Linked DNA regions of Homo sapiens: regions 1 and 2 are each linked to region 3. The links come from fine-mapping of genetic effects on gene expression. A gene starts in region 3. Each other region holds a variant in brackets. All regions are shown on one strand. Distances are between the middles of the regions. Region 1 overlaps ABCA3 (ATP binding cassette subfamily A member 3). Region 2 overlaps ABCA3 (ATP binding cassette subfamily A member 3). Region 3 holds the start of ABCA3 (ATP binding cassette subfamily A member 3).

What was found. PIP is the estimated chance that this variant, and not a neighbour inherited with it, causes the effect. A credible set is the group of variants that fine-mapping cannot tell apart.
Region 1: its variant is the best candidate, but not a certain one, in a credible set for the expression of ABCA3 in thyroid (GTEx, PIP 0.61).
Region 2: its variant is the best candidate, but not a certain one, in a credible set for the expression of ABCA3 in cerebellum (GTEx, PIP 0.74).

The regions. Positions count from the first base shown.
Region 1 is chr16:2,298,346-2,303,542 of GRCh38, forward strand. It overlaps ABCA3 (ATP binding cassette subfamily A member 3), which reads right to left. Exons shown (of 33, transcript NM_001089.3): 13 at 1,660-1,803; 14 at 1,058-1,187; 15 at 41-195. Among named protein-coding and RNA genes, the nearest start is that of MIR4717, 26 kb to the left of the region's middle. The variant C/T (reference allele first, on the strand shown) is at 2,180.
Region 2 is chr16:2,305,025-2,310,243 of GRCh38, forward strand. ABCA3 (ATP binding cassette subfamily A member 3) reads right to left here. Exons shown (of 33, transcript NM_001089.3): 11 at 3,426-3,599. Among named protein-coding and RNA genes, the nearest start is that of MIR4717, 33 kb to the left of the region's middle. The variant TG/T (reference allele first, on the strand shown) is at 3,172.
Region 3 is chr16:2,337,603-2,342,821 of GRCh38, forward strand. ABCA3 (ATP binding cassette subfamily A member 3) reads right to left here and starts at 3,126. Exons shown (of 33, transcript NM_001089.3): 1 at 2,971-3,126. It also overlaps the pseudogene ABCA17P. RefSeq lists silencers at 2,747-2,806, 2,977-3,436.

The DNA.
Region 1 (5,197 bases), 39 kb before region 3:
CAGTGGAAACACCCCTGCACACCCCTGGCCCCCAACTCACCTGGGCGTAGAAATAAAGGTGCTCTGCGACTGTCAAGTTGTCAAACAGGATGTCGTGCTGCGGGCACAGGCCCAGGCTCTTCCGGATCTGAACCATGTCCTGGGAAATTTCATACCCGCTGATGTATGCCCGTCCACTGGTGGGGGGAAAGAGACCTGGGGCCCAGCAGGAGACCCCACATTCAGCATGAAGATCCTGCTCGTCAGCACCCGCGGTAATGACCCCCCACCCCCTCTCTGTCTCCCCTAATTTCCTCTGAGGACCCTGCCCATGAGAGGGCACGGAACCCCACTCCCACTGGGGTGGGCTTTGGCTGGGCCAGTGGGAAAAAGAAGCGGCATGGAAACAGCCCTGCCACTGGGACGCACAGCTGGTCAGGGAGGAGAAACCCACGACACACACACACAGAGTCACCACAATCAGCCCCCGCCCCGGGTCCCAGCCTGTGCCACTGCCAGACACTTTGGTGCTTGGGGAAGACAGAGTGAAATGCCAGTGGCCGGTGTGGTGCACAGGGGAGAGCTCTCAGAGAGGGGTTTGGTGACAGAATTAGCATGGGGTTGAGCTGCTCCTGCGTGGTGGCCTCTGTTTTCACTGACCCTGTCAAGCTTGGGTATTCACAGACAGAGGCGGTGAGGAGGGCAGGGGTCCCTGGGGGTCCCCCTGCATTCATGGACAGAGGCGGTGAGGAGGGCAGGGGTCCCTGGGGGTCCCCCTGCATTCACGGACAGAGGCGGTGAGGAGGGCAGGGGTCCCTGGGGGTCCCCCTGCATTCACGGACAGAGGCGGTGAGGAGGGCAGGGGTCCCTGGGGGTCCCCCGGCATGTCCCGGACAGAGGCGGTGAGGAGGGCAGTCCCTGCTTGTGCCCCTGGGCCTGCAGGGCTGAGGTGCATCTCCTGCCGCTGTGGTTGGGGAAGGCCCGAAAGCCCCATTGAGGGAGTGAGGCGGGGCTGGCGCTGAGATGGTGTTAAAGGGGGGCCTGCTGGTGGCAGGGGCGTGAGGCGCCTGGCCCTCACCTGTGAGCATGGAGAGGGTGGTGGTCTTCCCGGCACCGTTGTGGCCCAGCAGGACGGTGATCTGTCCCTCGTACAGGTTGAGGTTCAGGTCTCTGACGGCCGCCCTGTCCTTATTTCCCACCCTGAACACCTGCAGGAAAGGCAGAGGCTGCCCTGGGCTACCCACAGCCCCGAGGCCCACGGCCAAGGCCTCTCCTGCTCCCCTGCCCGACCGTCTCAGAAGGAACCAAGCCTAGCGTCACCATCAGTGTGCAGAGGGGAGGGACGTTTCGGGCAGATGCTGCTCCTGGCTGCTCCCCTCCGGTCTCCCCCAGCCCCAACACGTCCCAGACACCCTCAGTGTCTCTGCAACCCTGGGAGGCCCATGAGGCCGAGGCACTGCTGGACGGCTGAGTCTGGCATTTCCTGAGAAGCTGGAGATGTGGTCTGTGCCCTGGGGAACCGGTTAGAGGGCAGCGGAGGGTTCCTGCCCTCCTTCAGGGCAGGAGGGAGCAAGGCTCAGAGGGAGCGCCTGACGGGCTATGAGGTCTCACTGCCGTGCTGGTAAGTCTTCCCATGGTCCTGGCAGCCCCGGCCCTCCCTGTCCCCACAGGAGGCGGCACCTTGGACAGGTGCTTGATCTTGATCCCCGCCACCAGGTCCTCTGGCTCGGCTTCAAAGTACTCGTTTCTGAGTGCTTTCTCGGGGTCACTGTCTTCTTCCTCCTTCCCTGCAACCGCCCTTGGCTTCCCACACCAATAGGAGGGCTGGGAGGGAAGCAGACAGCTGTCAGTTTGTTTTGTTTGTGACGAGCAAAGCAACAACCAGCAGACACACTAGATGCACACAGCCATGCAGCCTCTGTCCCAGGACTTCGAGGCACTGCTGTGGAGAAGGCGCTACTCAGGGAGAGCCCCAGAGAGTCCCAACTTGTTTCATCCCTGTGAAGGCTCTAAGCCTCAGTTTCCTAACCTGGTAAGTGGGTGTAATGGTTACATACAGGCTTGTGAAGATGAACTCAGATCCGATACAGGGCAAAGGGAGTTTGTCAGCTATGAAATTTCATAGACAGAAGTTATCTAACGCTCCAGTCCAGAGGGATGTTGGAGCCAAAATGGAAAGAAAGCTGTGTCCCCATGCCAC[C/T]CGGCTGTTTCTTTGCTCAAGCCCCACATGAGTTCATGACTGTAAGCAAGAGAAGCCGAAGGCGCCACGCCTCCCTCTACTATGAGGAAGCCTCTTCCCATCTTCTCTGTGGCCATCACAGAAATAACTCAGTGCATGGGGTAAGAACACAGGCACACACCTCACACAGTGCCCTCGAGGACAGCCTGGTGCCTACATGGAGGCAGTCGACACAGTGGTGCGGGCAGAGCAGCAGGGAAGGTGGAAGCAGTGCCTTGGCAGGATCAGTGCCAGGGCAGCTGCGGGGCGGGGACTCGTTTACCCGCAGCTCCACGCCCAGTGCACTTCCAGCACCTGGAACGGCATCTGGCACACACTGCACTCCACTGGTTCTCAGGGACACAGCTCTCATATGTAAAGTGATTTTAAAATCAGAATGCATCTTGGCTGGGCACGGTGGCTCGAGCCTGTAATCCCAGCACTTTGGGAGGCCGAGGCGGGCGGATCATGAGGTCAGGAGATCGAGACCATCCTGGCTAACACGGTGAAACCCCGTCTCTACTAAAAATACAAAAAAATTAGCCGGGCGTGGTGGTGGGCGCCTATAGTCCCAGCTACTCGGGAGGCTGAGGCAGGAGAATGGCGTGAACCCGGGAGGCGGAGCTTGCAGTGAGCCGAGATGGCACCACTGTACTCCAGCCTGGGCGACAGAGCGAGACTCCGTCTCAAAAAAAAAAAAAAAATCAGAATGCATCTTAAACTATAAAATGCCATAGTGTAAGTGTGGCATTTTTCTTTCTTAGTGATAGACAAAGTAACCATTACCTCTAACGGTCAGTGTCATCTTACAGTTGATGGATTACAGTAGTGAACACTTGATAACTACTTGTGGAAGCAAAGAATGAAAACAGAAATGGCCTCGGCTGGAGGTGGTGGCTCACGCCTGTCATCCCAGCACTTTGGGAGGCCGAGGCGGGTGGATCACCTGAGGTCAGGAGTTCAAGACCAGCCTGGCCAACATGGCGAAACCCCGTCTCTAATAAAAATACAAAAAAAATTAGGTGCGTGTAGTGGTGGGTGCCTGTAATCCCAGCTACTCAGGAGGCTGAGGCAGGAGAATCACTTGAACCTGGGAGGTGAAGGGTGCAGTGAGCTGAGATCGCGCCACTGGACTCCAGCCTGGGCAACAGAGCTAGACTCCGAATCAAAGAAAAAAAAAAAAAAAGAAATGACCTTAACTAGCCATCGGTAGGGAATCAGTTAAGTATATGTTGATGGGCCCACAGAATGGAACACTGTGTGTCACTATAAATGAAGGTGGTTTGTTGGGAGCAAGCCCCCCAAAGTCTGGCCATAAACTGGCCCCAAAACTGGCCATAAATAAAATCTCTGCAGCAATGTAACACGTCCATAATGGCCATAACACCCAAGCTGGAAGGTTGTGGGCAAGGAACACCTGGCCCGCCCAGGGCGGAAAACCGCTTAAAGGCATTCTTAAGCCGCAAACAAAAGCCTGAGAGATCTGTGTCTTAAGGGCGTGTTCCTGCTGCAAGTAATTCGGCCCATCCATCCATTTCCCTTAAGGGATACTTTTAGTTAATGGAATATCTATAGAAACAATGCTAATGACTGGTTTGCTGTTAATAAATATGTGGGTAAATCTCTGTTCGGGGCTCTCAGCTCTGAAGGCTGTGAGACCCCTGATTTCCCACTTCGCACCTCTATATTTCTGCGTGTGTGTCTTTAATTCCTCTAGTGCCGCTGGGTTAAGGTCTCCCCGACCGAGCTGGTCTCGGCAGTGATTCTTAAAAAGGTAATACTTAGGTAGAAATATATTTATAAATATAACAACATTCATCAATATGTTTAGATAATAGTTTAAAACTATATTTATAAATAGACAAACATATATATGTATTTAAGATATCTGAGTTGTACTGTTAGGTTAAGAAAAGCAACTTGTAAGCATTTTTTACAATATGATTCTTTTTTTTTTTTTTGAGACAGGGTCTCATTTTTTCACCAAAGTTGGAGTGTGGTGGTGTGAACATGGCTCACTGCAGCCTCCTGGGCTCAAGTGATTCTTCTGCCTCAGCCTCTCAAGTAGCTGGGACCACAGGCATGTGCCGCCTGGCTAATTTTTTAAATTTTTTATTTATTTTGTAGAGATGGGGTTGCACTATGTTGCCCAGGCTGGTCTCTAACTCCTGGCCTCAAGTCATCCTTCCACCTCAGCCTCCCAAAGTGCTGGGATTACAGGGATGAGCGACTATGTCCACCCCGATCCCATTTTTTTTTTTTTTGAGATGGAGTCTCGCTCTGTCGCCCAGGTTGGAGTGCAATGGCACAGTCTCAGCTCACTGCAACCTCCGCCTTCCGGGTTCAAGCAGTTCTCCCTGCCTCAGCCTCCCAAGTAGCTGGGATTAGAGGCGCCTGCCACCACACCCAGCTAATTTTTTTTTTTTGTATTTCTTTAGTAGAAACAGGGTTTCACCATGCTGGCCAGGCTGGTCTCAAACTTCTGACCTCAGGTGATCCACCCATCTTGGCCTCCCAAAGTGCTGGGATTACAGGGGTGAGCCACCACACCCGGCCTCCAATCACATTTTTATGAAACTATGCTATATGTCCATCCATCTGTGCTCTATGACAGTAAGTGTAGAGAGGGAAACCCAGCAAAGTACATACCAAATGTCAACAGTGTTCATCTCACCAGTGGGAATGAGCTATAGATTTCAGGAATCCGAACTTTTTTTCTCTCTTTTTTTTTTTTTTTTGAGACAGACTCTCGCTGTGTTGCCAGGCTGGAGTGCAATGGCGCGATCTTGGCTCACTGCAAGCTCCGCCTCCCAGGTTCATGCCATTCTCCTGCCTCAGCCTCCCGAGTAGCTGGGACTACAGGCACCCGCCATCACACCCGGCTAGTTTTTTTTTTATTTTTTATTTTTAGTGGAGATGGGATTTCACCTTGTTAGCCAGGATGGTCTTGATCTCCTGACCTCGTGATCCACCCACCTTGGCCTCCCAAAGAGCTGGGAT
Region 2 (5,219 bases), 33 kb before region 3:
CTGGTCTCGAACTCCTGAGCTCGGGCAACCTACCCGCCTTGGCCTCCCAAAGTGCTAGGATTACAGGTGTGAGCCACTGCACCCGGCCAGTATAAGTCTTTATTTGTTTATTATTTTTTATTTTTTTGAGATAGAGTCTTGCTCTGTCACCCAGGCTGGAGTGCAGTGGTGCAATCTTGGCCCACTGCAACCTCTGCCTCTGGGGTTTGAATGATTCTTCTGCCTCAGCCTTCGGAGTAGCTGGGATTACGGGAGCACGTCACCACACCTGGCTAATTTTTGTATTTTTTTTAGACAGAGTCTCACTCTGTTGCCAGGCTGGAGTGCAGGGGCACAATCTTGGCTCGCTGCAGCCTCCACCTCCCAGGTTCAAGCGGTTCTCCTGCCTCAGCCTCCCGAGTAGCTGGGACTACAGGTGTGCGCCACCATGCCCAGCTGATTTTTGTATTTTTAGTAGAGACGGAGTTTCACCATGTTGGCCAGGATGGTCTCGATCTCTTGACCCCATGACCCGCCCACCTCAGCCTCCCAAAGTGCTGAGATTACAGGCGTGAGCCACCGCGCCCCGCCAATTTTTGTATTTTTAGTAGAGACAGGGTTTCGCCATGTTGGCCAGGTGGGTCTTGAACTCCTGACCTCGAGTAATCCACCCGTCCTCCCAAAGTGCTGGGATTACAGGTGTGAGCCACCCCATCCAGCCTAGTATAACTATTTTTTTACATTTTAATTTTGTAGTGATGGGGGTCTTGCTATGTTGCCCAGGCTGGTCTCAAACTCCAGCCTCAAGCCTTCCTCCTGCCTCGGCCATAAGTCTTTTTTAATCACAGAAATATTTCAAACACGTGTAAAGCTCTCTTTAATGGAGCTCGTGTTTCTCATCATCTCTCTGGTTTGCCAACATTGCAGTCCTGACAGTGCTGGGGATCTGTGTGTCCAAACACCCTCTGTTTGGCCGAGGACCCTGATGGAAATAATGCTCTCCAGCCTTGGTGAATTTGCACTTTCAAACAACCAGAGATTTGTCTGTTTTAATAACATTCACTCTAGCTGGGCGTGGTGGCTCACATCTGTAATCCCAGCACTTTGGGAGGCTGACACAGGAGGATTGCTTGAGGCCAGGAGTTTGAGACCAGCCTAGGCAACACAGACAAATTAGCCAGGTGTGGTGGCACGTGCCTGTAGTCCAGCTACTCAGGAGGCTGAGGTGGGAGGATCACTTGAGCCTGGGAGGTCGAGGCTACAGTGAGCTATTATCATGCTACTGCACTCCAGCCTGGGCAATGGAGTAAGACCCTATCTCCAAAAAAAAATTGTTAAAAAGAAAGCAAAAGAACAAAGTTTACATTTTATCAACACACGAGTAAACATGGAAACACAGATATGTAAAAGCTAAAGTGTCAGAAGACACTGCCGACTGTAGAGAACCGTTCTAATGAAAGACAAAGCAACGCTGGACACTCCCACCTCCTTCCACAGACCCAGACCTTGGCAAGCTGCAGCTAGGAACTGCATGGTGCCATGGCTTGACTGGGCCCCCCAAATTCATGTGTTGGAGACTTGACCCCCAATGCAGCAATGTTGGGAGGAGGCCTAACTGGAGGGGCTCAGACCAGGTTTGGTGCCCACAGCAGGCTTTGCAGAATGAGAGCCCACAGGCCAAAGGCCGACCAAGGAAGTGTTTTACTCAATTTAATTTCATAAAAATTAAGAAAAAAAGTGGGCGGCTCACGCCTGTAATCCCAGCACTTTGGGAGGCCGAGGCGGGCGGATCACAAGGTCAGAAGATCGAGACCATCCTGGCTAACACAGTGAAACCCCGTCTCTACTAAAAATACAAAAAATTAGCTGGGCACGGTGGCGGGCGCCTGTAGTCCCAGCTACTTGGGAGGCTGAGGCAGGAAAATGGCATGAACCCGGGAGGCGGAGCTTGCAGTGAGCCGAGATTGCGCCACTGCCCTCCAGCCTGGGTGAAAGAGTGAGAGACTCCGTCTCAAAAAAAAAAAAAAAAAAAAAAAGAAAAGAAAAGAAAAAAAGTGAGTCGTGATGATGCCATTGCACTCCAGGCTGGGTGACACAGCGAGACCCTGTCTCAAAAAACAAAAAAGAAAAGAAAAAAAATGCTGTCGTTTATCACTTGTTTCTCTCTTAGGCGTCTCTGCTGCCATCACCAATCAATACAGGAGGCACTGGGAAGATGCTAATTCTACCCTTTACCAAGAGCAGTGGTTGATGAAAAGTCCTCGAAACCCAGCCAGCCTCAGTGGCTCACTCCTGTAATCCTAGCACTTTCGGAGGCCGAGGGCAGATCACTTTAGGTCAGGAGTTCAAGACCAGCCTGGCCAACATGGCAAAACCCCCTCTCTACTAAAAATACAAAAAAATTAGATGGGCATGGTGGTGCATGCCTGTGATCCCAGGTACTCGGGAGGCTGAGGTGGGAGGATCACTTGAACCCAGAGGCAGAGGTTGAGATGAGCCAAGATCGCACCACTGCACTCAAACCTGGGAAACAGAACGAGACTCTTGTCTCAAAAAAAAAGAAAAAAAGTCCTCAAAACCCTAGACTTTGAGATCTCTGATGTAATAATTTTATTTTATTTTTTTGAGACGGAGTCTTGTCACCCAGGCTGGAGTGCAGTGGTGCGATCTCAGCTCACTGCAAGCTCCGCCTCCTGGGTTCACGCCATTCTCCTGCCTCAGCCTCTCGAGTAGCTGGGACTACAGGCGCCTGCCACCACGCCCGGCTAATTTTTTGTGTTTTTAGTAGAGACAGGGTTTCACCTTGTTAGCCAGGATGGTCTCGATCTCCTGACCTCGTGATCCACCGGCCTCAGCCTCCCAAAGTGCTGGGATTATAGGCGTGAGCCACCACGCCCAGCCTTTCTGATGTAATAATTTTGAATGTCTCAGGAAGCTGGAAGAGGCCAGATGTGGTGGCTCACGCCTGTAATCCTGGCTATTCAGGAGGCTGAGGCAGGAGGATTGCTTGAGGTCGAAAGTTTGAGACCAGGCTGGGCAACACAGTGAGACCCCATCTCTATAAAATATTTAAAATAAAAAAAAATGAAAACTGAAAGAGGCTCAGGTCACCGACTTAGATCCCACCATCAGTCAGATGCGTATGTGGTGCCAACGCTGCTGGATGCTCCAACCCTCTTGTCCTCCGAGCTT[TG/T]GGCTTCTTCGGCCCACTGCCCTGTGGCTCCCATCACCTCCTGCTGTGCCGTGGAGCTGGGCTTCCCTCGCCCGGGGCCGTGTCCAGCTATCCAGCCCACACTCAGCGCTGTATGCGGATGCTGCTGCCTTCAGTGGTCCCAACTGCCTGCCAACCGTCCCAGGTGGAGCCTTGCTGCTGGCGGCTCTTGTGGTTGGGTGCTCTCGAAGGTTACTGATTCGGAAAGAACAGGCTGGACAAGGCAAACACTCACCTTTCGCCTCAAATTTCCCAATGAGCTGGGCTCCCATTGCCATGGCGACATTAGACAGGAGGCAGGAGCAGAGCTTCTGGCTCAGAGTCATCCAGTTGTACCGAGGGGCCACGAAGAAGTAGGGGATGTAGGTGAAGAAGTAGAGGAAGCCTCCGAAGGCTGCTGCCATGTTGGCTGCAGGTGTTGGAAGACCCGGGGGGCGTGAGCGTCAGTGCCCTCAAAAGGGGCTTGGGCTCCCCGAGGTACAGGCAACCCCCTACTCCTGGGGCCGAGCCACCCAACCTGCTCCTGGCACTTGCCATCTACACGGGACACAAGCTCCAGCACGGGGGGACACCAGGTGTGGCCGGCAGCCCCTTCTCCAAGTGAGTAGTGCCCCCATCCCAGGGACCCCCACACCAACACCTCCAGCCCCTCCTCCACCTCCCATCCAGCTGCCTCCCTGACACTGCACACCTCACGTGGCTGATCCCAAACCCCTGATTCCCGCCTAAGCCCCACTTCTTTTTTTTTTGAGAAGGAGTCTTGCTCTGTCGCCCAGGCTGGAGTGCAGTGGCACGATCTCGGCTCACTGCAAGCTCCGCCTCCTGGGTTCACGCCATTCTCCTACCTCAGCCTCCTGAGTAGCTGGGACTACAGGTGCCCGCCACCACGCCCGGCTAATTTTTTGTATTTTTTAGTAGAGATAGGGTTTCACCGTGTTAGCCAGGATGGTCTCGATCTCCTGACCTCGTGATCCACCGGCCTTGGCCTTCCAAAGTGCTGGGATTACAGGCGTGAGCCACCGTGCCCAGCCTGCCTAAGCCCCACTTCTGCCTGGGTTGCCTGATCTCTCTCATTTGTTCATTCATGCATTCGTCAGATACGCACTGAGCACCTACTCTGTTCTAAGCACCGGGAGGCAGCCCCACACAAAACAGAGAAAATCCCTCCCCTCCCACGCCTGGAATATAGCGGGGAGACAGAGAGCAAGGTGTGCTGGATGGAGACACATGCTGGATGCAGCAAGGAGGCGCAGGATGGGAGAAGAGGCTCCCGACGGCCGGGAAGGCTTCGAGGAGGTGACATGTGAGAAGGAGCCGGAAGAGGTGAGAGAGTGGATTACGGAGAGTGGAGAGATGGGCATGTTTTCTGTCCATGCCAGCAGTGCTCAAACTGTTTGGTTTTCTTTTCTTTGTTTCCTTTTGAGATCGAGTCCCCCTCTGTCACCTAGGCTGGAGTACAGTGGTGCCATCATGGCTCACTGCAGCCTCCACCTCCCGGGCCCAAGAAGTCCTCCCACCTCCGGCTAGGGAGAGCAGCTAGGACCACAGGCACGCAGTACCATGCCTAGCTAATTTTTAAATGTTTTTGTAGAGATGGGTTTCCCTATTTTGTCAGGGCTAGTCTAAAGCTCCTAGGCTCAAGGGATCCTCCCGCCCTGGCCTCCCAAAGTGTTGGGATTACAGGTCTGAGCCACCGTGCCCAGCCATCAAAATCTTTGGTCTTAAGACCCTTTTCTATCCTTAAAAATTATTAACGACACCAAAGGGCTTTTTAAATGTGGGTTATATATATATATCCATATTTATTCTGTGAGAAATTAATACTAAGAACATTTAAAAATTCTGTTAAATTTAAGAATAACAGTAACAAATCCACTACAAGTCAACATACATTTATGAAAAAAACCCCGGCTGGGTGTGGTGGCTCATGCCTGTAATCCCAGCACTTTGGGAGGCTGAGGTGGGCAGATCACAAGGTCAAGAGATCAAGACCATCATGGCCAACATGGTGAAACCCCGTCTCTACTAA
Region 3 (5,219 bases):
TTCCAACTTGTGGCCTCAAGTGATCCTCCCGCCTTGGCCTCCCAAAGTGCCAAGATTACAGATGTGAATCACTTGCACTGGCCAAGGCCAATTTATAACCTCAGTGGCCCTTGTGGGGATGAGGTAGGAACAAATGCACAACCCACAGCCATTGGCTGAGAGCTGGGGAGGCTGGTTTGAGGCTGTGGCACTGGCATCGCAGGCCCTGATGGAGCCCTAGCTTGCTGGCGCTCATACTCAGCACCACAGGCGCTGCCTGGAGTTGGAGGCGGCTGCCTCCCTAGGATCACAGGCTCTGCGTTTACAATGAAGCTCTGGCAGGGGTTCATAGGGTGTATTTTTAAGCCAGAGACGTGGTTCCAAAGGGAGCTATCGGGACAGACTTCCACAAAATCTCTGCTACTGCCTGTTTCCCTAACCCTTGCCGTGGCTTCAGTCCCGTTCTCCAGCCAGCTAGCTGTTCTGCCTCCCTAGGTGCAGGAAACGAGGTAATGAGGCAATGGAAAGTCCCCAGAGGGAGGTAACCATGGATGTTCTCCAACAAGCAAGTTAGCAAGGACCTCGTTACACGGCTCCCGCAAAGGCACCTGTCTGCCTGTTGACTCCAAACCTCTCCAACACCACAAACACTCTGAGCCATTCAGGGGAATGGGGTCTGCAAAACTCTCCCAGGACAGGGCCTGACATGCCTCACTCTTCCCCACAAGATGTGGGCCTTCAGTGTTTTGTCTGCCTAGAATATCACCCGGATACCTTTCTCTACCTACCCATCACTTCCCAGCCCACTTCTAGTACCATGGCCTCTGTGAAGCTTGTTTCAGGGGCTCTTTGTCTTGGCTGCCTGCACAATGGAATTTTCCAGGGCACTTTAAGACAGAAACTGACATCTGAGGCCCACCCCTGGAGATTCTGGGCTGTTTTGGGCCCAGGCTGGCTTCCCAGGTGATTGTAACGGGAAGCCTGGGTGGAGACCCTCTGCTCTTCTTGGAGCCAACTCTCCTCCACCTCTGGTCACCTGTTGCACCTTTTCTGGATGTGTCATGTGGTACTCATCTTGTTCTGTCTTATGTCACAGTTACTTGTGAATAAAGCATCTCTTTAGCTCTATCCTAAGACCCCTCCAAGAGCAGGGACTGTGTCCAATTCATCTTTTTTTTTTTTTTTTTTTTTGAGACAGAGTCTTGCTCTGTCGCCCAGGCTGGAGGGCAGTGGTGCCATCTCAGCTCACTGTAACCTCCACCTAATATGTTCAAGCGATTCTTCTGCCTCAGCCTCCTGAGTAGCTGGGATTACAGGCACGTGCCACCATGCCCGGCTAATTTTTTATATTTTTGGTAAAGATGAGGTTTCGCCATGTTGGCCAGGCTGGTCTCGAACTCCTGAACTCAAGTGATCCGCCCGCCTCTGCCTCCCAAAGTGCTGGGATTACAGGTGTGAGCCACTTAGCCCGGCTTCCAATTCATCTTTCCATTGTGCACAAGGCCTTCCCCGTCAGAGCCGTCCCCAAAGTTCCAGAATGCTTCCCCTCAATAGATTCCACAGTCTCCGGAAGCAGGGCTGGGGAAGAAATGGCAAACTAGGGATCTTACCTGGGCCTTCCCAGTTGAGACTACGTCAAAATGGGCTCCCATGAGACTGCCTGGCTCATGCAGATGGAAGGCTAACATCTTTTTAGAAACAACTCGTGCTACCCTCTCCTGTTCCAAAAGCCTGTCTGGTCAGAATGGTGGTAAGTCACTTTAGGAAGGGAGAGACGTCGTCCTGTTTTTCAGGTAGAGTTAGCAAAGGTTCAATTTAAAAGAAAAATTATCTAAGAAGTTAAAAATGAAAGTGTGGGGGAGATTCCCATGACATCCATTTTTATCTATTTTTCCCTTTCTCTTACATTTCTCATGAGGCAAACTTTCTAAAACAGTCTTAGTCTTTTCAAGTTTACAAAAGGCAGCGCCCAGACTATCTGAATAAAATGACGGGATGCCCAGGAGAAGAGTGAACCTCTCCCACGTGCTCCCTGCCTGGGCTCCATGCTGTCGCGGGGTCTCGGCTACTCACTCAGCGGGCATTTCTGGAGTTCCAGGAACACAAACCCCAACAAGATCCAATCGACGCCTTCCCGGAGTGCACAGTCCAGGACGTAACCCGGAGAACAAGCGGCAATTACCCCCTGAGGACATGGCTTCATCTGTGCGACAGACACCAAGCGCCTTCCCCACGCCCCTGACCATAAGGCCGTCCCGGCCCTTCTGAAGCGTGGAGCCGGCTTGGAACAGAGCCAAGACACACGGACGCGATGCACACAGGCGTCCTGACCGAGGGCGCCGAGAACGCGGCCTCCGGCGACTGCCACAAGCCCCTCCGCCTGGACTAGCGGCTCCCCTTTCCCGTTCCCACACAGTGGAGGGCGCAGCAAACGCCCGCCGCGGACCGTGGGCCTTGGATTCGGATTTGGAGGCTCCTCGGAACCAGAGGGTGGGAGCAGGCGGAATCCAACCCGGGCGGCTTTGCCACCGCGCGCCCGGCATCCCTGCGGCCGGAAAGCGGCGCCATCTCCGCAAGTGCGCGGCGGACGCCTGCATCCCTCGGGGCCGGGGCTGTCGGTCGCTACATATCCACCTTCTGGGCGCACACAGAGGGCCCGGGCCGTGCCGAGTCTCCGCAGGGTCGAGCTTCCCCGCGCGGCGCGGGCTCAGGCACTGCCCGCAGTGCGGGACACGCCCAAGGCTCGGATGGGAGCCGACGCTGAGGGAGCGGCACCTGCAGGGAGCGCCCGGAGCCGAGGCCGCGGCAGGAGGGGCGGGCGCGGGCGCGGCCGGAGGGGATGCGGGGTCGCGGGAGGGGCCCGCAGGCCAGGCCGGAGCTGGGGGGGGCCCGAGGCCCGAGCTGGCCGGCGAGGGTGGGAAGGGCGGACCCGGGTGGGGACCGCAAGCCCCGGGAACGAGCGCGCGAGCGGCGGGTCCCGGCGGCACTCACCGAGCCTGGGCGCCGGGGCGGCGGCGGCCGGCGCGCGGCCCTCTCGCGGGGTCCCCTCCCTCGGCCACCCGGGCTCCGCTCCAGCCTCGCAGTGGCGGCGGCACTGACAGCTGCGTGGCCGCCCTGGAGGGGAGGGTGCGCCTGCAACCCGCTACTGGCGGACGCAGCGGCCGCTCCGGCTCCTGCAGGGGGCGCCGCGGATGGCGCGTGCGCAGTCGGCCGCCCCTGCAGGTGCCCGGTCCACCCCCGGCCGCCTCGGCCGCTCCGGCCAGCCCAACCCCGCGCCTGCGCGGTGCCCCCTGCATGTCGCCCATGCCCGGCAGAGGGCGCTCTGACTTGCGCGTGCGCAGTCAGCCACCCTGCGAGTACGCGGTTCGCACCCGGCCGCGCGGCAGCCCGTGCTTGCGCACTGCTCTGTGCCCGCGCCTATGTCCAGCAGGGGGCGCGCAGCGGCGGTAGCCGAGCGAGGGCGCGGTGGCCTCTGACAGGAATGACTCTGCGCACGTGCGTTTCGCAGCAGTGGAAGTCTTCACACCCGGAAACTCGACTTTGGCCGTTTCTCCATTTCTCCTCACGCACTGTCTTTCCTTGGGCCCTCGTCACTCCTGGCACCGGGGGAAGGGCTTCCCCGCCTCTGGCCGGGCGCTGGGGCGCGACCGAAGGCGAGGCGGCGGCGAGGAACCTTCTGGAATTCGGCCGTCGGGGCAGGCGTCGAGTTTACAGGAGAAGGCGCGGTGTCCCGGGATGAGCGGAGTCGCCCTCACTTAAGGAGCGAGGGAGGCCTCGGGGGTCCCCAGCCGGGTAGGAGTCACCTCAGGCAGGAGGGCCCGGCCTTGTCGGGGTCACCTGGCGGGAGGGTCCCGGGGTGGGGCGGGGCCGCCTGTGAGGAGGGTCCAGAGAGGGTCGGGGTCACCTGAGGGGAGGGTGGGGGGGTTCGGGGATGGTTGGGGTCACCCGACGGGATGGTCCGGGGAGGGTCGGGTTCACCTGAGGGGAGGGTCGGGGAGGGTCCGGAGAGGGTCGGGGTCACCTGAGGAGGTGGTCCGGAGAGGGTCGGGGTCACCTCACGGAGCGAGCGGAACGGGGTCACCTGGAGGGAGTGTCCAGGGCGGGGGCCCTGCAGGGAGTCGCCTGCAGGGAGGGTCCCGGGCGTGTCACATTAGGCGGTCCCAGGGACGGGTCGCGGTCTAACGGGACGGGAGTGGGGAGGTGGGTCGGGGTGTCCCTGGGCCGGACCGGGTCGTGGGACTGGGTCGCCCCAGGCAGGAGAGCCTGGGAGGGGCGGGCCCCCTTGGCGTGGCAGGGAGAGGTGGAGTGAGGGACTCCCGGGCTCCAGCATGAGGGCGGGCGCCGCGCGGGGCCGACAGTTGCCGCGGGCCGGGGCCAATGGGTCCCCGAGCGCCGCCAGCGGCCGGACCACAGTGAGGTGCGTCCGTGGTCCCGGCGCCCCGGGTGAGGGAGGGCTGCTGCCGGTCCTGCCGCTGGGAGCCGCCTGCGACCCGCACCGCCAGCCCCGCGCCCAGCCAGCCGCCGGCACCACGACCCGACGGCCCCGACCTAATGCAACGCCCCGGGCCGGGGGCGGAAATCGCCCACCCCCAAGAGTCCTGATGGAGTAGGGTTTGAGCGGCTCGTTCCCCATTTTACTGTGTACATAGCACCTTTCACTCTGATGATGTTCTGGATAGCCCATTCCGCGAGCAAAGGGACTTCGTCAGGTTCATGCCTAGATCCAGGGTCCTAGAGTGCCTGGGGCGGAGGAGGCTCATGCTAAATAATTTGTTCAGTGGAATCACAGAGACCTGGCTTCAGATCTTGACCCACCAATTAATGTAGACATGTCATTTTATCTTTCTGAGTCTCAATTTCCTATCCCTAAAATTGAAATTATAATAATAGTAATTAATAATAATAGCAAACTCAAAGGTTTTTTGTTGGTGTATTCTTTTCTTTTTTGGGTCAAATGAGAAAATGCATGTTTAAGTGCTTACTACAATACCTGACACATAAATGCCAAATAAATGGTAGTATATAATGTGAGTATAGCTAGGGATTTACATAGCCTAGTCTCCGTAATGAGCATACAGGGGGAAAAAAAACCCCAAACAATTGAATGCAGTTACAGGATGGGTGGGGGAGTGGATTATTAATGCGCTGCAAACATCCTAAAAACCCCCTTTCCCCATCAGTCTTCACAGACTGCAACACCCCATCCAAAATGTCTTCCCCATTCTCTGCTTCGTCCCAGA